Regions from separate parts of the Homo sapiens genome. Here region 1 is linked to region 2. Evidence: fine-mapped expression QTL. A gene starts in region 2. The other region holds a variant in brackets. All regions are shown on one strand. Distances are between the middles of the regions. Region 1 overlaps FEZ1 (fasciculation and elongation protein zeta 1). Region 2 holds the start of EI24 (EI24 autophagy associated transmembrane protein).

Region 1 (10,526 bases), 130 kb before region 2:
TGTAAGGCAGAGCTAGGGAGAGAAGGCAAGGAAGCTCTGCACTGCCCTCTCCTGACAGCTTCCCCGACCGCAGCGGAAGCTATGAATCTGGTCCCTCTTGTCCACCATACTCCACCTCCCTCAAAGGCTTTTGCTTTCCTGTCTCCATTCCCGGCCTTGAATCCCAGGGATCAGCACCATAATCCCCCAGGCAAGAAGAAACTCAGGCAGCTGATCTCCACACAGAAGTGAGAGGCAGGCCTTCTTGTCAGCTCCAGACGAGAGGGTACCTTCTTTAGCCACACTTGCTGAGAGGTCTGGGGCATCTGTTTAGAAGCAGGAAGGGAGTGCCTTGTTCATGTTCAGGAATGCTGGAGAGTTTGCACGTACTGGCAGATCACCCCATGGCCAGGTGGAAGATAGGGAAGCCAGTGGTTGGTTACACAGGCGAAGTGGGCTCTGACCAGCTCTGGTGGAGTTCCCTGCATCACTGCCCTCAGGGAGCCCAACATCTCTCCCCCTCCTCACACCTGGAGAGAGTTCTGCAAACCCTACAGAAACCCCGCCTCTCTAGGTAGAGGAAGAAAATCTTAAGAACTGCACGATGATTGGAACCTCACCTCCAGAGCTGGGAAGACAACAGTCCTTTAAGACAGTGGTTTCTAAGGAACACACTGTTGAAAGATATGCTACCAAAAAAAAAAAAAAAAATCCATGCCCAAATTAGCCTAAGATTAACTGCATATTCTGTTTTGTTAGTAGAGTTTCATCATGCACATTATTATACTAAAGGCTCTAAAAAGTCCTACAGGAAAGAAACCTGTTGAACTTTGTTTCAATTGTTCCGAGATTTGCTCCACCTCCCTTTTTTTCAAGTAATATCTATTCAAGTTATACCAATATTCCACAAAACACACTTTAGGGAACACTATTCTAAAGAAATTGCAGAGTAGCCTGTCCTACACTCTCCCCGCCAAGTTTTTCTATCAAGTTCTGCCAGCCATCTTTTCAACCACGCTGCCAACTGAAAGTGGGTTTCTTTTTTCTTTTCTTTTTTTTTTTGAGATGGAGTTTTGCTCTTGTTGCCCAGGCTGGAGGGCTGGAGTGCAATGGCACGATCTCGGCTCACCGCAACCTCTGCCTCCCGGGTTCAAGCGATTCTCCTGCCTCAGCCTTCCAAGTAGCTGGGATTACAGGCATGAATCAACACACCCTGCTAATTTTGTATTTTTAGTAGAGATGGGGTTTCTCCATGTTGGTCAAGCTGGTCTTGAACTCCGGACCTCAGGTGACCCACCTGCCTTGGCCTCCGAAAGTGCTGGGATTACAGGTGTGAGCCACTGCGCCCGGCCTTTTAAAATTATTATTATTTATTTATTTATTTATTTTTGAGACAGGGTTTCACTCCCATCACTCAGGCCGGAGTACCATGGCACAATTTCGGCTTACTGCAACCTCCGCCTCCCAGGTTCAAGTGATTATCCTGCCTTGGCCTCCTGAGTAGCTGAGACTACAGGCATGCACCACAAGGCCCAGCTAATTTTTTTGTTTTGTTTTGTGTTTGCAGAGATGGGGTTTTGTCATGTTGCCCAGGCTGGTCTCCAACTCCTGAGCTCAAGAGATCTGCCTGCCTCGGCAACCCGAAGTGCTGAGGTTACAGGCGTGAGCTACCACTCCCGGCTGAAAAGGGGTTTCTGAAATCACTTGAGATGTAGGTAGTTGTATTTTTAGGAGCCAACAACCTCTCTCTGTGCATGACCCAAATGCTGCCCAACCCAAGGAAAAGACACGCCATAATCCCTGTGGAAATTCAAGAGATGGATGACAGGGCGAGGGGTAGGGGAAGGTTTCCTTTACCCAAAACCGAACTCTGATATCAGGGCTCTGGCAACTCTCAGACTGACTTCTGCCCCCCACCCCCCGACCCATCAGGAAAGACTTTTCAAGCTCAGAGATCCTGCTCATGGGAGTTGGTGGCCAGAGCTCAACTTCCTTGACCGAGGATCCCCTCTCCTGCCTTGCATGGGGCCCCAGGAGGGCAATGACCACCACACTGCAGCCTGCTCCAATTCATTCCTGATGAGTCATTCATTATCTCAGCATGCATTTATCAAGCCCCGACTCTGTCCCAGGCACTGTTTTACAAGAATACACCTGTGGCTAACAAGGACAGCGTTCTTTACTTCAGGGAGTTTACATTCTACTAGAAACAACTGAGACTGGGCCAGGTACGGTGGCTCACACCTGTAATCCCAACCCTTTGGTTGTCCAAGGTGGAAGGATCACTGAGCCCAGGATTTTAAGACCAGTCTGGGAAACATAGTGAGACCCGCCCCCACCTGCCCGCATCTCTACTATTTTAAAATGAATATGCATGAGAAAAAAGAAAAAGATTGAGACTGAAAGAGTGCTCGTAGCATCCTTGTAATGGCTATAACTATGATCTCATCCTTACCACAGAGAACTCAAACTTCTTCATTCAGAGTTGCAAAGCAGGAAGCTTTCAGCTCCACTGTGAGGTTCAGGTTAAGCTCAATTTTCAGACCTGTTTTGAGCCATATATTGTCTAAAAATTGTGTGCCAACTTTTAAAAGTTAGAAGGTTACACATTAAAAAATCAGATTCCTGGCTTCTCCTGAAAAATCAGGCAATCAGGCGACTTGGGACCTATATAATCCCACTTGGCCATGATTGAGTGTAGTTGAATTAACTGCTGCCCCCTAAGGCACGTTCTCTGTGTCATCAGGACATTCGCAGCCCCTGTGGTCTCCCCAACACGGAGGCTGAGGGTTCATTGCTTATTTACTATTGGCTGTCACTATTTGGGTGGCTGGTGGCTTAGTTAAGCTTCCCCCATGTCCTTTTTTTTAAACCCCCTTTTGCTGTAATAGCTAAGTGGTTGTTTTTAAGAAGGGAAATATTTATCTCTACTCATTAATCCATCAAGAGGATTGCTTGGCCTCTTGGGAGGCCAACTGGGAGGCCTGAGGTCAATTGAGTTTGACCAATTGGGAGGTCAAGGCGGGTGGATCATGAGGTCAGGAGTTCGAGACCAGCCTGGCCAACATGGTGAAACCCCGTCTGTACTAAAAATACAAAAATTACCTGGGCATAGAGGTGCATGCCTGTAATCCCAGCTACTCGGGAGGCTGAGGCAGGAGAATCACTTGAACCTGGGAGACGGAATTTGCAGTGAGCCGAGATCATGCCATTGCACTCCAGCCTGGGTGACAGGGCAAGACTCCATCTCAAAAAAAAAAAAAAAAAAAAAAGAGTAAGAAAACAAGATAGTCCAAGAGGGAGGGCCCTGCCTTTGGTACAAAATATTGGAGAGAATGTATTTGTTTGTGGGCATAAAAGTACTCCTACCTTTCATTGCAAAGTATACCTGTGTCTCGTATCCAGATATCTTCACTCATACATTTTCTGCCTACCTTGCCTCCCCAGGCAACAATGAGGCTAGAGGCATAAAAATCACCAGGGTTGCTTGTTATAGATACAATGTAGGTTCCACAACCGGTGTTTGCCCCAGATAGCTAGGCAAGATGCCCAAAGACTTGGAGGAGCATTGCTCTCAGAAAATAGTTTTCAATTGTTGGCCGGGCATGGTGGCTCATGCCCAGCACTTTGGGAGGCTGAGGCAGGCAGATCACTTGAGGTCAGGAGTTTGAGACCAGCCTGGCCAACATGGTGAAACCCTGTCTCTACTAAAAATATAAAAATTACTCAAATGTGGTGGCATGCACCTGTAGTCCCAGCTACTTGGGAGGTTGGGGCATGAGAATCGCTTGAACTTGGGAGGTGGAGGTTGCAGTGAGCCGAGATAGCGCCACTGCACTCCAGCCTGGGCAACAGAGTGAGACTCTGTCTCAAAAATAAAAATTTAAAAAAAAAAGAAAATAATTTTCAATCATCTTTTGAAGCTCCTTGCTTTATAGCTGCTCCTTTAACT[T/G]CCTTTAGCCAGATACACTACCACCCTCAAGCCAGTGATTCATTCAGTACAAATTCCCGGGTGCCCACTATGTGCCTGGTAACCTATGAGGGACAAAGGATGATGAATTTTGCAGAGCATCACAGACCAAGGGACCGAGCACCGAGGACTGACAGAATGGTGGTCACCTCACACGCTCCATTTCCACTTTGGCATCTTATTTCCATCCCACAGATGAGGCAGGTTTTATTATACCACTTTCCAGCGTATCTTATACTTTTTCTCAGCCTCTCTCTGGGCCAATCTCATTTAGCCCCTTTGCAAATTAAATGCATCTCATTAAATCGAACCCATTTAGGACAATGCCCTTCAGGTGTGTGCATCTTAGTACATCTTTCATTTTAAGACAAGTGTTTGATTTATTTTTCATCTCATTACGCTCTTTAAAATTATGTGCATCTCATTACACTCAATGCACTGAGACAACTTATTTCTGGTATAGACATTACACCCAGTATTATCAGGCAAGAATATGATTTCTTTTCATTTCATTACAAGCCTTACAATTTATGTACATCTCATTACAATCAGCCATTTAAGACAATTCCCTTCAGTTATGTGTATCTCATTATACCTTTTCATTTTTGCATTTTTCTCATCTTATTATTCAGAGATTCTACTACAGGTGTGTATACCTCACATCCACCTGTTATTCCTGTGAATTTCTAGGTTCTAGAAATTCTAGCTGTTTCCACTGATGTATTGCAAAATTTTTATTCTACCAAATTCATTTAAGGCCAGCTCTGCCCATCTGTGGACCTCCCCTGACCCCTTTGCACAGGAAAGAACACTGGGCTCCCCTGGATGTAGTTGAGATTCTGCCCGTAACTTTCCCTTACACACAGGGACCATCTGAAGCAACTTCCCTCATGTGCATATTGAGGGGATTAGAGGAGACGGCACTAGGAGCCCCTTCGGTTGATAGTCCATGAAACTCTAGTCTTGTGGATGACAGCTTAGCAGCTTCTCGGCTTCTCCTGGGAATGCAGCTGCTCTCCTTGGAAGCCACCCACCCTGCTGGAGAAGCTGACATTGACATCATTGCCCAGCTTCCAACAGCCAGACAGCTTCACACGTCTGGCTTCCTTTTCAACTGGAGAACACTGTGAATCGTGTGGGGACACATTTTGGAAGGAGGTGAAATATTAAATAACTGCTCTGTTATGATGGAATCTTCCCCACCTCCCAATCCAATGGTGTCTTCATCTCTCCTCCAACCCCTAACCCAGGGCTTCTCAGCTGGAATGCACTTTAGAATTGCTGAGCAAGCTTCAGTTACAGGCACCCAAGTTCTATTCTCCATCTACTGAATCAGAAACTCACAGGGTGCAGCACAGGTAGGTGCATTTTTAATAGCACCCCAGAGATTCTCAACCTGATTCCACAAAAGGACCTGCAGTGAGTCGCTCTGAGCGGAAAACACCTGATGCTCTCAGTATTGCTCGTCTCAGCTGAATTTGTGTCTTAACAAGAATCCAAGCCTAGAGTTTAAAAAAAAAATCATTTCTCAGCCCTGAAAAGGGTACTGTGGGTCAGTAATCCCAACTCACCCGTGCCATATAGGAACCCTGCCCACGGAACACTAAATTGTCATCTCCTGGCCAGGCACAGTGGGTCACACCTGTAATCCCAACACTTTGGGAAGCCGAGGCAGGAGGACTGCTTGAGCCCAGGAGTTTGAGACCAGCCTAGACAACATAGTGAGACCCCCCCCACACCATATGTACAAAAATAAAAATAAAAATATATATAGCCAGGCATGGTTGCCCGTGCCTGTAGTCCCAGCTACCCAGGAGGCTGAGGTGAGAGGACTGCTTGAGCCCGGGAGGCTGAAGCTGCAGTGAGCCATGATCATGCCACTGTACTCCAGCCTGGATGACAGAGCAAAACCTCGTCTCAAAAAAAAAAAAAAAAAAAAATGTCATTTCTCTTTACCTTACACTGCGCACTACCTCCCAGGGCAAAGAAACCCAAGTTGTTACACAGAGCCAACTGATCCCTCCAACTTCCACCCAGTGATCTGAGCTCTGCCTTCTGCAGACAGAGGGAATATGTAGGAACCCTCCAGACTGCATACTTGTGGTCTTCAGGGCTTATGTAATTTGTAGCAGCAGCAGTTCAGGAGATCTACAGGACCTTTCTCCAACCTCTTCAACTAATCCTCATGTTCCCACCTGTCTTGCCTATCCATAAAGCACAGGAGGCTTCCCTGAGCATGTCTGCAGTGGTCTGTGTGTTTTTCTTCTGTGAACCCACCCATCTCTTTGCCAGTGGAAATAGAGTCTGTTCTCTAAGCTCAAAAATAAATGTGACTTTTCACTATCCCTCCTCCACCCCTTCCCTTGAATGAACCTGCTGAGAAGCCAGAATACACTCCCACTCTTGCCACTTCACTTTGTCTTCTTGTCCAGATGTACTTGGAGGCCGCTAGTTCCAGAATCCGCAAGCACCAGGGCTCCCTGGGCTACCACTAAGCAGGATTTAATGAGCATAAAGGGTAGGTGTAAAGCTGGTTTTAGGCCAGGCATGGCGGCTCATGCCTGTAATCCCAGCACTTTGGGAGGCCGAGGCTGGTGGATCACTTGAGGTCAGGAGTTCGAAACCAGCCTGGCCAACATGATGAAACCCCATCTCTACTAAAAATATTTTAAAAATTAGCAGGGCGTGGTAGCAAGCAGCTGTAATCCCACTTACTCAAGAGGCTGAGGCAGGAGAATCACTTGAACCTGGAGGCAGAGGTTGCAGTGAGCTGAGATCACACCATTGCACTCCAGCCTGGGCGACTAGTGAAACTCCAAAACCCCATCTCAGAAAAAGAAAAAAAAAAGCTCGTTTTAGGGCAACAGGCTAGGTTGTACTTGTCTTGTTTTGATTTTGTTTTCGGGTTTTTTGTGCCTGTTGAATTGAAAAAATGGTCACGTCCCCAAGGCTAAAGACGCAACAGAACCAGCACTTTCTCTTTTCAAAGTTTACTAGGAAAAAATAAAAGTCACACTTCATTGAGCACGTAGCATATATGCTAGACACTAAAGATTATTTAAAACAACTGTGGGAGAATTGCTAGTATTATTAATATTAGTATTCCCATTTTTTAAATGAGGAAACCAAGGCTCAGAGAAATTAAGTAATTTTCTAAAAAATTATTTAGCTTAATATGTATCTAGAGCTGGATTTGAACTCAAGGCACAAAGCCCATGCTCCTTTTAGGAGATAAGCTGCCTCCCCAATCATTGGCTGACCCAGGCTGGCCTTTGGAGTCAAGGAGAGAGGCCCCCTCTGTCCTCAAATCCCAAGAGGTGCTTGTATCCCTGCACCTGCCTATGCCTTTCTCCTCCAAGGTCCTGGATGAAACAGCATCTAAGGATGTGGGCTTCAAGCCCCAGCCTGCTTCTCCCATAGCAGAGCACCTACTCTGTCACCCACCAGCTCCTGACTTGACCATCTGCATTTCGGGGAGAAGGAGCGGGACTCACGTCATCTGAACTTAAGAAAATCCTCTTCATGCTATTCAAGTAGCTCTGCTATGGGAGGGGGTTAGAAAGCAACTCATGAAGGAGACGCTGCTGCTGGGATAAAGGAGGGGGCAGTAGCACCGCCGTCGGCACTGTTGGTGATGGTTGTGCAGATGTGTTTTGGAAATTGGTGTGTGTCAGGAAATGTTGAGTCCCAGTGACCTGTCGGTGATGACAGCTGATATCCAAACCTTCTCTCCTGATCTGTGCAGCTGATTCCTTTCCTTTCTTGCTTGGAAGGCAAGGCTAGGTTCTTAGGTTCTTAGCCTTGACTGCTGAGAGTAAGGGCAAAACAGGTTGGAAGATGGAAGAAAGACAAAGGGAAGGAAGTTAATCCCTGAGAGACAGGCATAGAATGGGTCCCCAGGCAAGAGTCGGGGGAGTCAACGGAGAGCATAGGACAAGCCGGAAACCTTGGGATGTTGTCAGATCAGGCAACACTTTGGTAGGAAAAAATAAAACGACTCTGTTGAAGGAGGAGAGAGGAGAGGCAGAAGTGGAAATACACTGGACTGGTATAGAGACACCGGGCTCCTCCATAACTTGCTTCTTTGGTTCTGTGATTCATTTTCCTGTTCTCTGGGAGGCTGGGAATGGAAGAGAGTGAGAAGCAGGACACAGGGGTAGAGAAAAGAGAAAGGGAGAAAGAGAGAAACTAGATGTGCATGTGTCTCTGGGGTTTTTCAGACAAAGCTGTTATCAAAATGCCAACCAGCTCCTGCATGGCTAATTTGCATATTCCATGTTGTGCTCTTTGAAGCAGGATGAATATGCATGAGGGCTTGGGCGGGGTGCAGAGCTGCTGGGCTGTGGGCTAAGGTGGCTCATTGTTCTTTTAGAAGAAAGGCATTAGTAAGAAACCAAAGCACTTTCCCAGCGAGCAAAGTGGCCTTGGCTTCCCTTCCCTGATGAAGGGAAGAGAGCAAACCTCAGGCTCAGACAGAAACCCTAACGACCATTCTCTCATCCTCTCAAGGAAATAAATAATCAGGCGCCATCAAGAACGCAAGTATCTCTTCTCCAAGAGTAGCATTTAATTACTTTCCACTCCACGCATACTAATTACGGAGGCTGACTGGGTGATGAGAGTCACCTCTCCTGGCTTCCCTGGAAACGAAGCTGCCACTCCCCATTTCTTGCTTCTGCTGCAAAGAAAGCTGGGCGTCCTGGGGTGCTTTTTGCCTTTGACCTCTGGTGAGACCCCTAAACCTCTCAGTGACCGGGCTGTGGTGGGAGTGCCTGGGACATAGTGGGTGCTCAAAAGAGGCTTGGGCATGGACTCGGTGAAGTCCATTAAGACTTGGGTTATAATGAACCCTAAGACACCTGGAGGACCAGGTCTCCTCATTAACGGTCTCCATCCCTTCTTCCCTGACCACCAGTGGAAGATAGTCATTCTCCAGACATTAGTCCAGCAAGTATGAAAAGGGTTTATTTAACTTTAAAAATCCAATTTGTCCCACAAACTTAGGGTCACAAAATGCTCCCTTTGGGTTTTCTTTCTGAAGTATCACATTGGTCTCCTGAAGTAGAGACGAAAGGATAGAGACTGTTGGAATATTCCATTTGAAAAACAGTTTTTCCCGCATGACCATTTGTTTCAATTACACATAAATAAAGGCTGGCCTCTGGTGCCATGGTGTTTTCCTTTTTTTTTTTTTTTTTTTTTTTTTGAGATAAAGTCTTGCTCTGTCACCCACGCTGGAGTGCAGTGGCACAATCTCAGCTCATTGCAACCTCCGCCTCCTGGGTTCAAGTGATTTTCCTGCCTCAGCCTCCCAAGTAAGCTGGGACTACAGGCGTGCACCACTACAGCTGGCTAATTTTTGTATTTTCAGTAGAGAGGGGGTTTCACCATGTTGGCCAGGCTGGTCTCAAACTCCTGACCTCAGGTGATCTGCCCACCTCGGCCTCCCAAAGTTCTGGGATTACAGGCATGAGCCACCACGCCCGGCCCTGTGGTGGAGTTTTCTTACCAGAACTTGACCAGACTAGGCCTAGCAAAATCCTTTAATTGATGGAAACATACCTCATTTATAGGCTGTATTTGCCAGACAGACCTCTGACCTACCTAGGAGGGCTCCCTGCAGACCGTGGCTCTCTGGCACACTTTGCGGAGTGCGGACATCCTAGACAGGACTTGAGTTTTGCAATCAGGATTGACTCAGGCCTGAAAATCAGTTAATTCTTGGGACTCTTCTGTGAGGTTTCTACAATCCAGAAAGACCAGAAGAGGGAAAAGCTGAGGGAAGACAATTGGGTTCACCTGATAATCACACTAGCCACAAATTCCCTAGGTTCAGCATTGAAGAGTCAAGGATTCAGCAACTCTGAAAACCTAGGGCAGAGTTTCTCTAATCCTTGATGCAAATACAAGTTGCAGGGAGATTTAGCTTAATACGTAGTAGAGCTGCATTTGAACTCAAGGCACAAAACCCAGGCTCCTTTTAAGAGAAGAGCTGCCTCCCTTTTAAAGGGAGACCTTGTTAAAATGCAAATTCTGACTTAGTAGGCCTGATGTGGGGCCTGAGATTTTGCATTTCTAACAAGCTTCTAAGTGCGGTCAGTGCTGCTGGCCTGGAAAGCACACTTTGAATAGGAAGAACACAGGGAAGGGCAATGCAAAACCATGAGGAATTGATTTCATATTCCCCTTAAACTCCTGATAGACGGACAAACAAGAGAGAAAGGAGGAGCCACTGTTTTCAGCCTGCCCTGCTCACCTCCTCCTAGCCAGAGTGTATCCCCAACACTCGAGATTTATTTTTAACTCCCAGCAGCTTTGATTAGCTTGTCTCTGCCGCTTCAGACACCTGCTGGCAGGATAAATTGGGGGAAAGGAGTGGCTGACCCAGATCTGACAAATCCAAGGCAGGAAGAAAAGCTCTCAGGAATTCACTGCTTCCCCTTTGCTGAGGCTGGTGAAAAACCCCGTCGCCGGCAGAGTGCTAAACATGCTAATGACCTCACACCACTAATGACCCTGGGCATGTTCAGCCTTAGCACCAGTGAACTGCCGAACTGAATCCATGCCCTTTTATCAC
Region 2 (16,039 bases):
AGTGACATCAATGACTGAAGTTTTGGTCAATCTCTCAAAATTGAGAAGATGACCAAAAGTGGGGAATTTTTAAATCAAGATTAGCCTATGCCTACTAAAGTATGACAAGAAGAAAAAAAAGTTTAGCCTAAAGCTGCCTCCTTATATATTTTAAGTTGAACCTAAAGGTTTATCTGTACATCGTGAACTGTAACAAGTGGAGGTGTAAACAGACCGTAGCCTACAGTTGTGCCAATCACAAGGTTTTGGCCAATGAAATGTAGCCAATTGTTTGAACTGTGTTCAAATAAGGCAAACTCCAACCTGTAACCAATCCAGCTGTCTGTACCTCACTTTCGTTTTTTGTATGTCACTTTCCTTTTTCTGTCCATAAATCTTCTTCCACCATGTGGCTGCACTGAAGTCTCAGAGCCTACTCTGGCTCAGGAGGCTGCCCGATTCACAAATCATTCCTTGCTCAGTTAAACTCCTTTAAATTTATTTCTGCTAAAGTTTTTCTTTTATCACTACCAAACTACATAAAAGAGCTAATCAATTGACTTAAAAGAAAAGAAATGCTTATCAGATTAGTAAAAATTAGCTCAGACACTTTTAATTCACATGATCTTGGTAATCTTTGGTAAAATTAATTTGTTAAATTTAACCTCAAAACTGTCTCCAGTAATTTAAAAGGTTTAAGTCATATTATGTTAAAACCTCGATTTTTTTTTCCATAGGAAATTTGGGTTACTAAATTAAAATGGAGCATAAAAAATGTTTTTGGCGAAGTTTATAAAACACAAAGATAAGGATTTTGCAAAAAACAAAAAGTGTGTTTCTTTCTAGTTAAGAAACAATTGAAAAGTCACTTTAAGCTGAAGGAAAAAGTATACAAGTAAAAGTAATGGTTAAAAAAACAATTAAGGTCCGGACGCGGTGGCTCACGCCTGTAATCCCAGCACTTTGGGAGGCTGAGGCGAGCGGATCACAAGGTCAGAAGATCGAGATCATCCTGGCTAACACGGTGAAACCCCGTCTCTACTAAAAATACAAAAAATTAGCCGGGCCTGGTGGCACATGCCTGTAGTCCCAGCTACTTGGGAGGCTGAGGCAGGAGAATCGCTTGAACCTGGGGGGCAGAGGTTGCAGTGAGCCGAGATTGCGCCACTGCACTCCAGCCTGCGCGAAAGAGCGAGACTCCGTCTCAAAAAAAAAAAAAAAAAACACAAATTAAGACAGGGAAATAAGTTTATCTCAGAGACCTGTGGCTTCCAAGAAGATAGTTGATGTGGGTGAAAGGCAAAACCAAGTAACTATCAAAACCAGAGGATAGGCTGGGCACAGTGGCTCACATCTGTAATCCCAGCACTTTGGGAGGCCGAGGTGGGCGGATCACGAGGTCAGGAATTCAAGACTAGCCTGGCCATTATGGTGAAACCTCGTCTCTACTAAAAATACAAAAATTAGCTGGGTGTGGTGGTGGGCGCCTGTAGACCCAGCTACTTGGGAGGCTGAGGCAGGAGAATCGCTTGAACCTGGGAGGTGGAGGTTGCAGTGAGCCAAGATCATGCCACTGCACTCCAGCCTGGGTGACAGAGCAAGACTCCATCTCAAAACAAAAAACAAAACAAACCCAGAGGGTATAATGTAAAGGAATGGTTCCATTTTGTAGATTGGTATCATCAGCTTCTTAAAAAATCTTTACTATAGTGGATTGTAAAAATAAACAATTTATGGACAAAATCCTTAATTTTAAATGCTACAGAATTGAAGAACTTGTTTGGGTTAATGCAGAGCCCACAGCTCACTATTGAACAATCACTGATAAGTATATGTAATCTAAATGCACAGGAGGTTATTCCTGAAAGAATGATCAGCTAGCAGACCAGATAAATGCCACTGTAAGGTCTGTTTGCCCTGTGAAGCGGACTACCCAGCTCTCCCTATAAAATACCAAGTGAAGCACCCCAGATGAAGCAGTTATTGAATAATATGCTTCATATGAGAGCAATGACTGGCTTTATGATAACTGGGATATCCTCCCACTGAAGATGCCTATTACCCAGGTCATGGGAAATTTGGGGGTTAAGAGGTCCCCTTTTACATAAGTTTCCCTCTTGCAAAATCATAGGACTGTTTGAGAAGCCTTATCAAATTTGCTGTTCCTGGCCAGGTGTGGTGGCTCAGGCCTGTAATCCCAGCACTTTAGGAGGACAAGGCGGTCAGATCACTTGAGGTCAGGAGTTTCAAACAAGATGTTTGTTTACCTTGGAAATGCCCTTCGTAAGCCAAACAGCTCATGAAAGCTGTCTATCAGGCACTGCAGAATTTAGCAGCTCCTCACATACATAGTTAGAATCAGTCCTAGGGAGAAAGCGGCTCCCTGCTTATGAGTATCTCCTCCTTGTATCCCCAGGTGGCAAGATTTTATTTTATCATGGAACTCTTTGGGGCATCATTATTTCAGTTAGCATAGGGGTAGCTTCAGTTAACATTTCATAGCAAGGCAGTAAATGCACCTCAAGTGGAAATTCTCTAGTCCGGTAGTTGTCATTGGGAAGTACTTATAAGAGTTTTTTGTTTTGTTTTGTTTTTTGCCATTATCCCCAATAAACACTCCACAAAGGGCTATGAAGGGGATGATTTGTCCCAACTAGTACTCTAGCTTCTACCTGATACTTTGTGGGCTCAGGTGATTTTACTATTTCCCATTAACATGTCCAACTAACACTTTTCAAAAGAGCAGCTTTACATGTCTTTGGTTTTATAGTACTAGATAGGGGAAGCATCCTCCAGCTAGATACAATACCCATTTTCATAAGACATTTAGGCAAAGAGATTACAACTACGTTACATAAACCCTGTTTAAACATCTTAAATTTCATAATTCTATTAACCTGTACATTTTTTGGTTCTACCCCCAGATGATTTTACCTTTCCTGGCAAAAAAAAGGGCTTGAGTTCCCAGCAGGGAGTTGCATCTGTAAGACCCATGAGGAATGGCAGTTTTTTTTTGTTTTTTTTTTTTTTGAGACAGAGTCTCGCTCTAGTGCCCAGGCTGGAGTGCAGTGGCACAATCTCAGCTCACTGCAACCTCCACCTCCCAGGTTCAAGTGATTCTCCTGCATCAGCCTCCTGAGTAGCTGGGACTACAGGTGTGCACAACCACACCAGGCTAATTTTTGTATTTTTAGAAGAGACAGGGTTTCACCATGTTGTTCAGGCTGGTCTCAAACTTCTGACCTCAGGTGATCCACCCGCCTCTGCCTCCCAAAGTACTGGGATTACAGGCATGAGCCACCATACTGGCCAACACTTTCATTATTTTCTTTCTCTCTCTCTTTTTTTCTTTTAGCAACCACAGGCAAAACAAAGAGGAGCACTACTTTAATAATGACAATACACAACCTAAATTTAAATGAGAAGACTTTTGTGATCCATAATGGAACACAAATATGGTAGAGGAAAGGGTGTGGAATCGGGCGTTAGACAAACCTGGTTGGAGTTTTTTTTTCTTAATAGGAAGGCATGGAATTTTTTTTTAAATCAGCTACAACAGCTACTCAGGAGGCTGAGGCAAGAGGATTGCTTAGGCCCAGGAGGTCAAGGCTTCAGTGAGCCATGATCATGCCACTGTACTCCAGCCTGAGTGTCAGAGTGAGACTCTATCTCAAAAACAAAAAAAAATAGTGATAATTTTTCATTACAACACTTAAATTGTTGTTGAAATAATAAATATAAAAGGCTTGGTATAGTAGATGCTTAATAAATCATAGTATCTCTCTCTCCTAGAAGATTCCAAGGCTGGAAGCTAGGAGATCTGGCCCCTAATGATGCAGGATTTTTCTTGGCCCCTTTGACAAACTCATGGAAGGGGGCGCCTTGTCTACCAGGCCCACCACAATCAACCACTTGCAGGAGGGAGCACATGAGCAAGCAAGTTCAAGATCCAGCCAGCCACTCTGGGCACTGGCACAGGAGCAAGCTCTGTGTGGGGCCTGTGGCCAGACCAGGCATGTTGCCTCAAGAGGAACACTGCAGTGCCCAGGTGAAAGTGCCCATGACCCTGAAGCCTCAGAGCGGGTGTTACAGTGCTCCTTTAGTTTCATCATCCACAAACAGCAGTGTGTTAGTAGCTCAGTTGGCCCTTTGCCTTGTCACGTGGGGCAGCTGCCTTCCACTGGTGGGGGCAAAGGACCAGTGTGACAGCCTTTCTGGGTACCTGTACTTGGTGGGTCCCAAGCTCTTGTCCAGTGTCCAAGAAGAATGAGGTCACATGCAGGATTGAAGGATGGCGGGCCAGGTGCGGTGGCTCACGCCAGTAATCTCAACACTTTGAGAGCCTGAGGTGGGTGGATCACCTGAGGTCAGGAGTTTGAGATCAGCCTGGCCAACATGGTGAAACCCCATCTCTACTAAAAATACAAAAACTTAGCTGGGCGTGGTGGCAGGTGCCTATAATCCCAGCTACTTAGGAGGCTGAGGCAGGAGAATTGCTTGAACCCAGGAGGCATAGGTTGCAGTGAGCTGAGATTGCACCATTGCACTCCAGCCTGGGTGACAGAGCAAGACTCTGTCTCAAAAAAAAAAACAAAGAAAAAAACAAAGAAGGATGTTGAGGGCAGAGAATTTTTTTTAGTGATGAAAACGAGTCTCAGCAGTGAGGGGAGCTGGAGAAGGGACAGGAAGGGCAGGTCGTCTTCCTCAAAGTCAGGCGGTCTCCCACTCTACTGACTAAGTCAGGGGTCCTTATAGGCACAGGATGGGGAGTATGTGCAGATTGGTTTGTGGCTATGCAAGAAAGGTTAAAGCAAAGGCACCACTCAAAGGTGGGCACAACAGTGTAGAAAACCAATCAGGAAAGGGTAGGTATATGTAAAATAGGTGAAGGGTGGGGATCAATCAGAGGAAAACATGCAAGACAGGAAGACAAGTTCTCAATCTGGTCTGAGGACTTAACTTGTAGCTTGGCTTTCGAGCTTTAAACTGTTTTTGGCTTGGAGGTGGGGTTTCAATGGGGACCCGCCACTAACTGCCTAGGCATTTGGCTGTCTCCTGTCGCTATCACTAGATCTAGTATTGTTATCATTTCACTAAATCATATATCCATACAGTTAAAAAACACCTTCATATATATACCATTTATTTCAGCAGCCTGTGTTAAAGAAACTAAGGTTTGGGCCAGGCGTGCTGGCTCACACCTGTAATCCCAGCACTTTGGGAGGCCAAGGCGGGTGGATCACGAGGTCAGAAGATCGAGACCATCCTGGCTAACATGGTGAAACCCCGTCTCTACTAAAAATACAAAAAATTAGCCGGGCGTGGTGGCGGGCACCTGTAGTCCCAGCTACTTGGGAGGCTGAGACAGGAGAATGGTGTGAACCCGGGAGGTGGAGCTTGCAGTGAGCCAAGATAGAGAGACACTGTCTCAAAAAAAAAAAAAAAAAAAAAAAGAAACTAAGGTTCACAGCTTAACTGGAGGTCATGTCTTCTCAAAGTGCTCTGCCACAAACTTCCTCATTTGTGAAATTTGGAAAATAATATCCTCTACTTGTCCACAAATAGCATCTAATCATACATAAGCATGTGAGAGCTCTTTAAAAATGCAAGGTATTAATTATTATTGGTTTTTATTTTAAATGTGGTTATACATGTTGAGATTTAAAAGATTTCCTCCCGGCCAGGCGCAGTGGCTCACGCCTGTAATCCCAGCACTTTGGGAGGCTGTAGGTGGGCGGACCACGAGGTCAGGAGATCGAGACCATCCTGGCTAACACGGTGAAACCCCGTCTCTACTAAAAATACAAAAAAATTAGCCATGCTTGGTGGCAGGTGCCTGTAGTCCCAGCTACTCAGGAGGCTGAGGCAGGAGAATGGCGTGAACCCAGGGGGCGGAGCTTGCAGTGAGCCGAGATCGCACCACTGCACTCCAGCCTGGGAGACAAAGACAGACTCAGTCTCAAAAAAAAAAAAAAAAAAAGATTTCCTCCCATGAAGTAAGCCAGAATAAACTCATACCTACTAAATTCTTTCTAAAATCTTTTCTAAATTGACACTCTTGAGAAAGAATAGAGCTTGGAGGAAGAGCTATTATTATAATTAATAGCACAATAATCAGTTTGTCATTAAACCACTTAGGTCTCTTTGTAACAAGATTTCTAAGCTTTAGTAGATGGATTCCTTATTCTATTCTATTTTATATTGTTTTGTTTTGTTTTATTTTATTTTATTTTTCGAGACAGTCTAGCTGTGTCACCCAGGCTGAAGTGCAGTAGTGCGATCTCGGCTCACCGCAACCTCTGCCTCCTGAATTGAAGTGATTCTCATTCCTTAGCCGACCAAGTAGCTGGGACCACAGGTGTGTGCCACCATGCCCAGCTAATTTTTTGTATTTTTAGTAGAGACGGGATTTCACCATCTTGGCCAGGGTGGCCTCAAGTGATCTGCCCGCCTCAGCTTCCCAAAGTGCTGAGGTTACACGCATGAGCCACCGTGCCCAGCCACTTATTTTATTTCATTTTTTAAATTTATTATTATTATTATTATTTTGAGACTGAGTCTTGCTCAGTCGCCCAGGCAGGAGTGCAGTGGTGTGATCTCGGCTCACTGCAACCTTCATCCCCTGAGTTCAAGTAATTCTCCTGCCTCAGCCTCCTGAGTAGCTGGGACCACAGGCAGGTACCACCACACCTGGCTAATTTTTGTTATTTTAGTAGAGATGGGGTTTCGCTATGTTGGCCAGGCTGGTCTTGAACTCCTGACCTCGTGATCTGCCTGCCTTGGCCTCCCAAAATGCTGGGATTAAAGGCATCCTGTTACTAATTTCACAGGATTTTAGAAACGCAAGCAGCGTTGTGGAGTCAATGGGGGAGGGCAAAGAACAGGAGGAGAGATCTGTGAGAACGGGATCGGCGAGGAGGCGACGGGGAGGAGGCGACGCGGAGGGGTGAGGGGTCCTCTCCGCCGCCAGGCGGAGTTGGGAGCCGGACGATCCCGCACGCAGCGCGAGGCGGGACCCCGGACTGACTACATTTCCCAGTCTCCGTCGCTCCGCGCGGCCCACCCCTTCGGCTCTGGGCCCCGCCTCGTGGTGCCGGCTGGTTCTTCGCGCTCGCCCGACTTCCCAGCGGCCCCGTGCGGCCCGGGCATGCCCAGTGCGGGCGCAGCGGCCCCGGCCCTGGAAGCGCCCCGGCGGAGCTGGCCTGCGGTGGGCTAGGGGCAGGGCCGGAGCCGCGGCGGCGGAGCTGTGGGTAGGTGCGGGCTCAGCCGAGCTAGGCCTCGGGGCCGCCGCGCCGCCCATTCTGAGTGGCAGGGACCGGGAGGGCAGGCAGGGCCCGAGCGTGGGTTGGTGGGGCTACCGGCGAGGACCCCTTATGGGAAGGGGCCGGAGGGAGCGGGACGGGGCCGGGCACATCCCCGGGCGAGGCTGCCCCAGGTGCGGCGCAGCTATCTTTAGCTCCCTGTGTGACCCGGAGCGTGCGTGATCCGCACCTCGCGTGATCCGTACCTCGTGCACAGTTGTGCCTAGGGAGACCAGTTTTCTGCCGAATTGCCTAGGAGCTGTGGGGAGATGGGCCTGAATGGACCCGTGGACTCAGAGGCAGCCCGTGGAGCCCCGTGGGAAGTGAGGATGTTTACCTTCCCTGTACCTGGAGTGGGCTACGACAGCTTCCTGTTTGCCGAGACTTGGGTTTAGTGACTTAGAAATAAAAGTGTGTCTCAGCAGATGCTTATTAGCTTCTAATGACTGTTGGGAATTTAATGGCATTTGTATTTCCAGGTTTGAGAGGTTATTTGTCCATGGGATGCTCGTGTTAAAACAAAAATCTTCATTGCAAAGCTTAAGTAAAAACAAGTCTCGACCGAGGTAACGTTAGAACACCGGGTTCTGAGGTTCACTGTAGCTGCCATTCATTTGCTGTCAGTCTGGGCAAGTCATTTAACTTCTGAGACTGGGTTCTCTCACCTGTTAAATGAGCCAGATGCATCTTCATCTGTCTAGCTCAGCTGTAGGATTCCCCCTGTGTCATTCAGTCTGTGTGTGTGTTCTCAAATTGTGGCAGGTTATTTTTCCCCATGCCTCAGCTATTTGTCAGACTGGGTAATTCACCAAATATTCCTGTAGGAAGGATGTTAGGATCTAAGTATAAAAGTGAAGTGATTTATCCTTCATAGGTCACTCTTAGGAGGTGTCCTGCCACTTGGTACATGCAGAAACCAGGTGTTAGCTGGCCAGGGATCAAATGACACAGCTGTTGTGGACTGAGACAGAATGTTTCAGGTTCCCTGTCAGTTCCCTGTGAGAAATCCAGGCCAAGTAATGGGCTTCCTTAAACCTCCAAGCTGGCTCACTTTGGTGGGGTTGTGTTTATATAGAATTTTAAGTTTTTTTCATGCTGTTGTGCCCTATTAGATGCAAGAAACCTATGAAGAAGTTTAGTACCCTTAATTTATAGATGAGCCAGTGGCAGGTTACGGGAGTGGATCTGTGAGTCTTTACAAACTAGTGTCGTGCATATCACTGAGCCTTTGCTAGTTATCTAGCTCAGCTGCCCTCACCTCAACCCTGAGAACATGTCTGTATGGCTGTACCTACGCGACTGGAACTCTGAGGTGTTTGTTTTCAGGAGGAAACAGTGGGAGTATTAACAGAAGTTTCTTACCCTAGAGACTTCTATCCGAAGTGAGCCTATCTGTGTAGGATTTGACCTAAGGAGCAGAGGGTATATACAATGTTGGGCAAATTGCCTTCCTACTGCCATATCCCCTGCTCTTCCAGTTCTGAATGGCATTAGTCCAGTTGGGTCAATGAGGAGCAGTTTGGTGAAGTGGTTAAAGGTCGGGGAAAGTGTGCTTATATTTTGAAATTTAAGGTTTGTACAAGCTGCTTGTGAAATTCTGTCTTTGTATTATGGTCATACCTCTTAAACTGAGAATACTGCAACTTGATTGAGTGAGTGTTGAGAACTTTAGAATATCAGGTTCTTAAAAAATGCCTGAAAGTGGGTTTTCTATTCATCTTAGAAGTCACCACAGATTAAATGAGAGAATAGTATATTAATTACAAGTATTTCTCACATGAACTCTCAAGTTCTTAATTTTTGAAACTAGATATCCCATTCACCTGAGAAATAAAATGGGAAAGCCTTACTGTTTTAAAGACTGTTTATACATATGAACTTTTTTGAGGCCTAGTTTAAAATCCACTATTTATTGCATGTTTATTAAAATTGTATCTGTATATATTTAAAGTTAGAAAACAGAAAAGACCAGCCGGGCGTGGTGGCTCATGCCTGTAATCCTAGCACTTTGGGAGGCTGAGATGGATGGATCACCTGAGATCAGGAGTTTGAGATCAGCCTGGCCAACATGGCGAAACCCCATCTCTACTAAAAATACACAAAATTAGCTGGGCGTGGTGGCGGGTTCCTGTAATCTCAGCTACTCGGGAGGCTGAGGCAAGAGAATCACTTGAACCTGGGAGGTGGAGGTTGCAGTGAGCCGAGCCCAGTGTTGCACTCCAGCCTGGGCAACAAGAGCGAGACTCTGTCTCAAAAAATAAAATAAAATAAAAAAGACCTATTTGGAGGTTTTGGTACGCAATTTCATGTCATACCTTAAACTTTACTGTGCCCGAGGGCTCTGTATGACTGAAGCATGTATTTAGTAATTTTTGTAAGAACTTTTATCTTGCTCTTGTATTTTCATTCAAGTATTTGAAGGTATCCAGCAAACATAAAAATTGCTTAAGAAGATATTGAAATGTAATTATCTTCCATCTCCAAACCCTCAAAAGTGCTTAGAATGTGTAGGAGGGATAGTTAGGGGCATTGAGGCTCAGAGGAGGTTACTGGTCAAGAGCACATTGTAAAAATGTAAAATGTAAAAATGAGAGGGTGTAAAATGTAAAACCCCTTGTAAAAATGAAAGGGTGGTGAGTGTTTTAGAAAAAAAATAGGGATTTTAGGTTTCAGCTGTACAGGAATAGCTTCACTTGATTCACTCTATTAGTGCTAGAATCTACTGCTATCTTACTAGAGCTACAAGTATGTGAGGTCATCATGTGGAAATGTGCATGAAGTAACTTATCTTTAAAATAAATATTTGCCTCCATTATGTTCCATCTGTTTCCAGATCCTTCATGATGAGAGATTTGGGGACACTTCTCTCTCCTGTGTGTAGTTGATAGTTTGGTGGTGAAGAGATGGCTGACAGTGTCAAAACCTTTCTCCAGGACCTTGCCAGAGTGAGTACATCTTGTTTATAGGAATTCATCTCTCGGCCTTTTTTTTTTTTGCTGAAGGAACCATCTAGGAAATCCTTTAGGGTTTTTGGAACTTTTATCATATTTCTTGGGTTCTTTACATAAAGGTTGTTATTCTAGACCACACTACTCAAGAAATAGGTATTGTTCTACATCTTGCAGACAGTCTTGCAGGTGCTTGGAAGACCTCTTCGGTGGATGTCTCCAGTATTGGGACCCTAATCATCTTGGCTTCAGAGCTTTTTTTTTTTTTTTTTTTAACTTTTTATTTTGGAATGTGTTTAGATTTACAGAAAAGTTATAAGGTAGTACAGAGAGTTCCTGTATGTCCTTCATCAGCTTCCCTTAATGTTAACATATAACCGTGGTATATTTGTCAACTAAGAAATGAACATTGGTTCAGTACTATCACCTAAACTAATTAATTCAGATTTAAATTAGAGAACCTATCTTTTTTTTTTCCCAATTTTTCATTTATTTAAAAATTTTTCTGTTAAAAGTAGAGACGAAGTTTTGGCATGTTGCCCAGGCTGGTCTCAAACTCCTGGGCTCAAGTGATCCACCCGCCTTGTCCTCCCAAAGTGCCGGGATTATAGGAGTGAGCCACTGCACCTGCCAGAACCTTTTTTCTCCCCATTCTACAAGCTGTGCACGTGAGGAGGATACTCTAGGAAAATGCCCTATAAAGATCTGGTTAGGACCCAGTCATCCAAATTACCAATAGCACAAAAGTCTGCTACTTTTAATGTATGTCTGAAGCCTAATAATGTCTCACTTGTAACCCCCTCTTATATTTCCACTAGCATGAAAGAGGCCAATTCTTGGAGTGGGGAGGTTCTTTCTTTAGTGGAAGAGTTTAAAAGGTTACCTTTATGGCCAGGGGAGGTGGCTCACAGCTGTAATCTCAGCACTTTGGGAGACCAAGGAGGCAGGATTGCTTGAGTCTGGGAGTATGAAGCAGTAGTGAACTATGATGGTACCAGTGCACTATAGCAGGGCAAGAAAGTAAAAAGGTTATTACTTTTGAGTAAAAGAGGGAGGATTGAAAGAGTATCTTAGAAGGTCTAAAAAGACTTTATGCATATGATCTCCTTTTTTTTTTTTTTTTTTTTTTGACAGAGTCTCACTGTGTCGCCCAGGCTGGAGGGCAGTGGTGCAATCTCGGCTCACTGCAACCTCCACTTCTTGGGTTCCAGTGATTCTCCTGCCTCAACCTCCCAGGTAGCTGGGATTACAAGCACACACCACCACGCCTGGCTAATTTTTATATTTTTAGTAGAGACGGAGTTTCACCATGTTGGCCAGGCTGGTCTTGAACTCCTGACCTCAGGTGATCTGCCCACCTTAGCCTCCCAAAGTGCTAGGATTACAGGCATGAGCCACCGTGCCCAGCAGCATATGATCTACTTTTAACATCTTTACCTTGTTGTCTTGCCATTCATGTGCTGTAAAATTTCAACCCTCCCAGCCTGGCTAACACAGCAAAACCCCCTCTCTACTAAAAATACAAAAAAGATTTAGCCAGGCGTGGTGCACATGCCTATAATCCCAGCTACTCAGGAGGCTGAGGCAGGAGAATCGTTTGAACCTGGGAGGTAGAGGTTGCAATGAGCCAAGATCATGCCACTGCACTCCAGCCTGGGCGACAGAGTAAGACTCTGTTTAAAAAAAAAAAAAAATTCAACCCTGTGTTGGTTCTACAGTGTGCTATTTACATGTTTGTCTGCCCCACTGGACTGTAGATGTCTTAGAGGTGGGGATCCTATCATCCTAGCATGTACTAGGCCCTCAGCCATTTGAACTTAACTATCTTAGATAGTTGGAGTTTCCTGAGTTAAAAGCAAAATTAAGAGTAAAAATTACTCAGACAAAAAAAGATCAAAGGCACACTGTGCCAATTTATGTTCCTGTTAACAGATAATACATCAACTTGCCCATTTCTCTGTATTCCAGCTATTATTTCTAAAATTCGTTTTGTCTGATAACAGTAGACGAGAATGCTATCCATTCTTAAATCCAGCTTGGCCATTGCTTCCAGAATAATTTTTTCTGCCTTCTCATGAAGTTGAATGCCCCAGTGCTAACACTCTACTTGGGCCATACATCTGTTGTGGCACTTACTAAACTATGTGTGCTTGCTTCTGCAGCACATGTACTAAAATTGGAACAATACAGAGATTACCATGGCTCCTGTGCATGACACACAAATTCATGAAATGTTTCATATTTAAAAACTTTTTTAAAAAAAAACCTTTAATGTAATTTTTTGGTTTACTTGTGTGCTTTTCCTACTAAGTTATAAGCTTCTTGAGCATTTCTATATGACAATATATAGCTTATTGAAGATACTCAGTACGTGGGTGGGAGATGGATGCATGAGTGAATTCTTAGCCTTTGGGAGGCTTAGGCAGGAGGATTGCTTGAGGACAGGAGTATGAAACCAGCCTGATCAACATGGTGAGATCCCCATCGCTACAGAAGAAAAATTTAAAAGCCAGGTGTGGTGGTGCACATCTGTACTCATAGCTCTTTGGGAGGCTGAGGCAGGAGGATCATTTGAACCCAGGAGTTGGAGGCTGCAGTGAGCTATGATTGAGTCACTGCACTGTAGCTTGGGTGACAAAGCAAGACCCTGTCTCAAATAATAATAATAATAATGATAGCCTTTTCTATAGGGAATCAAAGACTCCATCTGGGGTATTTGTACCATCTCAAAGCTAGATGCTCGAATCCAGCAAAAGAGAGAGGAGCAGCGTCGAAGAAGGGCAAGTAGTGTCTTGGCACAGAGAAGAGCCCAGAGTATAGAGCGGAAGCAAGAGAGGTAAGGAGTGCATGCCTGATATCAAAATGTCCAAGGGAGGGAAGACCTTACATAGTGACTTGATGTTTCAGTGCCATTTTATTTCTTTTGTGCTTTTTCCCAGAAAAATGTTGCAAGTGATTTCCCCCCAACAACATTGACTTAAACTAGGGTCTAACAATAATCCTTGCTAAAAATGTCATGGTGTTAAATCAGAAAGCTGAATAGAGAATCGCAAAATATTATTTGGTTTGATAGATACTTCTAGGGAAGCCTGTGTGGATTTATGTATTAATAGAAGAACCCTGGCCCCACACTTTCTCTTAATCTTTTCCATCATCAGACTTTAGAAAATAAATTATTTTTCTTTTAAAAGCTGGTTCCATATATATACACATTTTTTTTTTTTTTTGAGACGGATTCTTGCCCTGTCACCAAGCTGTCACCTGAGATTGCCGTGGTGCAATCTCAGCTTACTGCAGCCTCTGCCTCCCAGGTCCAAGCAATTCTTCTGCCTCAGCGAACCGGCTGGCTGGAAGTACAGGTGCGCACCACCACGCCTGGCTAATTTTTTATATTCTTTAGTGGAGACAGGGTTTTGCCATGTTGGCCAGGCTGGTCTCGAACTCCTGACCTCAGTTGATCGCCTACCACGGCCTCCCAAAGTGTTAGGATTACAGCCGTGAGCCACTGCGCTTGACCATTTTTTTAGTCTTTTCTCATTGACTGACATTAGAACATTGGGAGAACATGAGGCACTGAAAAATAATACAGTACCCACAAAAGATAAGATATAAAATGAACTACTGAATGACAATTAGGAAATAACTTATGCTTTATAAACTAAATACATGTGATCTTTTCCAGTGAGCCACGTATTGTTAGTAGAATTTTCCAGTGTTGTGCTTGGAATGGTGGAGTGTTCTGGGTAAGTTCTTTAAATTCCAGGTGCCTTATAAGCATCTTCAGATTGTTGCTGGGTTGATAGCTATGAACTGTTTTCTTGAAACACTGAGACAAATAGTTTTCATCTGCTGATGTACACTTAGAAATATAACTCAGGAGTCTGTGCATCTGCAGAGATTTTATTCCCACTCAGGAAAGCACACTTATATGTAAGCAAACGTCACAGCCCTGAATATACACTTGAATTTTGTTTCTAAAATGACTCATTCACAAGTATTAGAGGTAGCAGTTTCTCTTGACACTGTCTAGACATTTTAAAATGCTAACAGCAACTATGGGGACTCGGGAAGGGCAGATACGGCTAGACAAGAACAAGGTTCTCCCTGCTTCTGCTTATAGTGATCAACAAGAGTTAATTTGCATTGAAACCTATAGCAGAAAAGATTGCCTACCATTTACTGAGAATCCCAGTGCAGGCTTAACTGAAATTTGGGTACTTTGAAGAATGGATAAATATTTCCTTTGACTTAGAATTTAGAGTAATTCATCACTTCTTAATCTAAACAATTCACAGATGTTTTCAGATGTTAGTTTTAAATTTAATTAATATGTATTCCTGTGTACTTAGTACATGCCTGTATTTTGGCCTGAATACTACTTGAAATGTTCCTGTATGCCCCCAAAAGTTTCATTGTTTTATAGGCAATATCAAGTTTGTATCTCTCAATTGGAGTGTTGGGAAATAGAAATGGATCCAGTTTTGGTGCTTTTTCAGGCCTCCTGATTTATTTTATTTATTTATTTATGTATTTATTTGAGATGGAGGCTCGCTCTGTTGCTCAGGCTGGAGTGCAGTGGCATGATCTTGGCTCACTGCAACCTCTGCCTCCCGGGTTCAAGCGATTCTCCTGCCTCAGCCTTCCCAGTAGCTGGGATTACAGGCATGCACCACCACACCCGACCAATTGTTGTATTTTTAGTAGAGACGGGGTTTCACCATCTTGGCCAGGCTGGTCTCGAACTCCTGACCTCAAGTGATCTGCCTGCCTTGGCCTCTCAAAGTGAACCACCGCGCATGAGCCACCGCGCCCGGCCTAGGCCTCCTGATTTATAAAAGTCACTCCCATCTATAAAATCATTACACTAAAAATTGAAGCTCCTGTTTTAAAGACTGGATTTTGATGTTTGCCTTGTTGCTTCTTTTCTTTAGTTCAGTCTCCTCTTGTTTTATCGAGTATTTATTCCTGTGCTTCAGTCGGTAACAGCCCGAATTATCGGTAAGTGTATACCCTGCTCCTTGTCTGTTGGGGACAGAGTGGGAGATGATGTTTCAGTCTCCCTCAGTTTACTGAACATTTCCTGTGTACCAGGAGCTTTCACTGTTTATTTTCTTTTTTGTTGTTTTATTCTTTTTAAAAATTTATATTTCGTTATTCTCCTAGAGGCCCTTTAAGAATGGGTACTGTTGTTCTATCCATTTTATGAATGAGGAAATGCAAGTTACCAAGGTTAAACCATTAGTAAGAGGCAAAGCTGAGATTTAAACCCAGATGGTATCCTGCAGATAGCGTACTGGTAATCACTGTGGCATCTCGTTACCATCATGTAAGCAGGTTTGTGTCAAGCAGCACATATCTATGGTTTCTTTGAATTGGAATTGTGGCCAGAATGTGGTGCGTCTATTATGAGTTAGACTCTTTGAGATAGGTATAGTGATGTGCTGGCAAGAACTAGAAAGATCCAGGAGGAGACAGAGAATAGTCACGAGATGGGGGTTCCGCATTTGGTCTTCTGGATTTCCATTTCTCCATTTCTAGTAACTCGTTTCCTCTTTCTTAGGTGACCCATCACTACATGGAGATGTTTGGTCGTGGCTGGAATTCTTCCTCACGTCAATTTTCAGTGCTCTTTGGGTGCTCCCCTTGTTTGTGCTTAGCAAAGTGGTGAATGCCATTTGGTTTCAGGTAGGTCCAGGGCAGAATGGAGTCTGGGTCCCGCAGCATGATTGGCTGACAGGTGACAAGTTTCAGCCTGTGAAGTTAGTGGGCATGTAGGGGGACCTGTTTTTCAGCCTTAATGTTTCTTGGCCA

Evidence for each region. PIP is the estimated chance that this variant, and not a neighbour inherited with it, causes the effect.
Region 1: its variant is fine-mapped to the expression of EI24 in whole blood (INTERVAL, PIP 0.92).

Annotation. Positions count from the first base shown.
Region 1 is chr11:125,433,598-125,444,123 of GRCh38, forward strand. It overlaps FEZ1 (fasciculation and elongation protein zeta 1), which reads right to left. Exons shown (of 10, transcript NM_005103.5): 10 at 9,284-10,526. Among named protein-coding and RNA genes, the nearest start is that of FEZ1, 57 kb to the right of the region's middle. RefSeq lists a silencer at 1-170. The variant T/G (reference allele first, on the strand shown) is at 3,932.
Region 2 is chr11:125,562,345-125,578,383 of GRCh38, forward strand. EI24 (EI24 autophagy associated transmembrane protein) reads left to right here and starts at 7,133. Exons shown (of 11, transcript NM_004879.5): 1 at 7,133-7,229; 2 at 10,114-10,225; 3 at 12,919-13,064; 4 at 13,911-13,971; 5 at 15,160-15,226; 6 at 15,789-15,913. The coding sequence starts at 10,184. It overlaps STT3A-AS1 (STT3A antisense RNA 1), which reads right to left. Exons shown (of 4, transcript NR_132372.1): 2 at 11,112-11,230; 3 at 7,946-8,098; 4 at 5,764-5,774. It also overlaps the pseudogene RNU6-1156P. RefSeq lists enhancers at 6,797-7,298, 7,801-7,850 and a silencer at 6,801-7,360.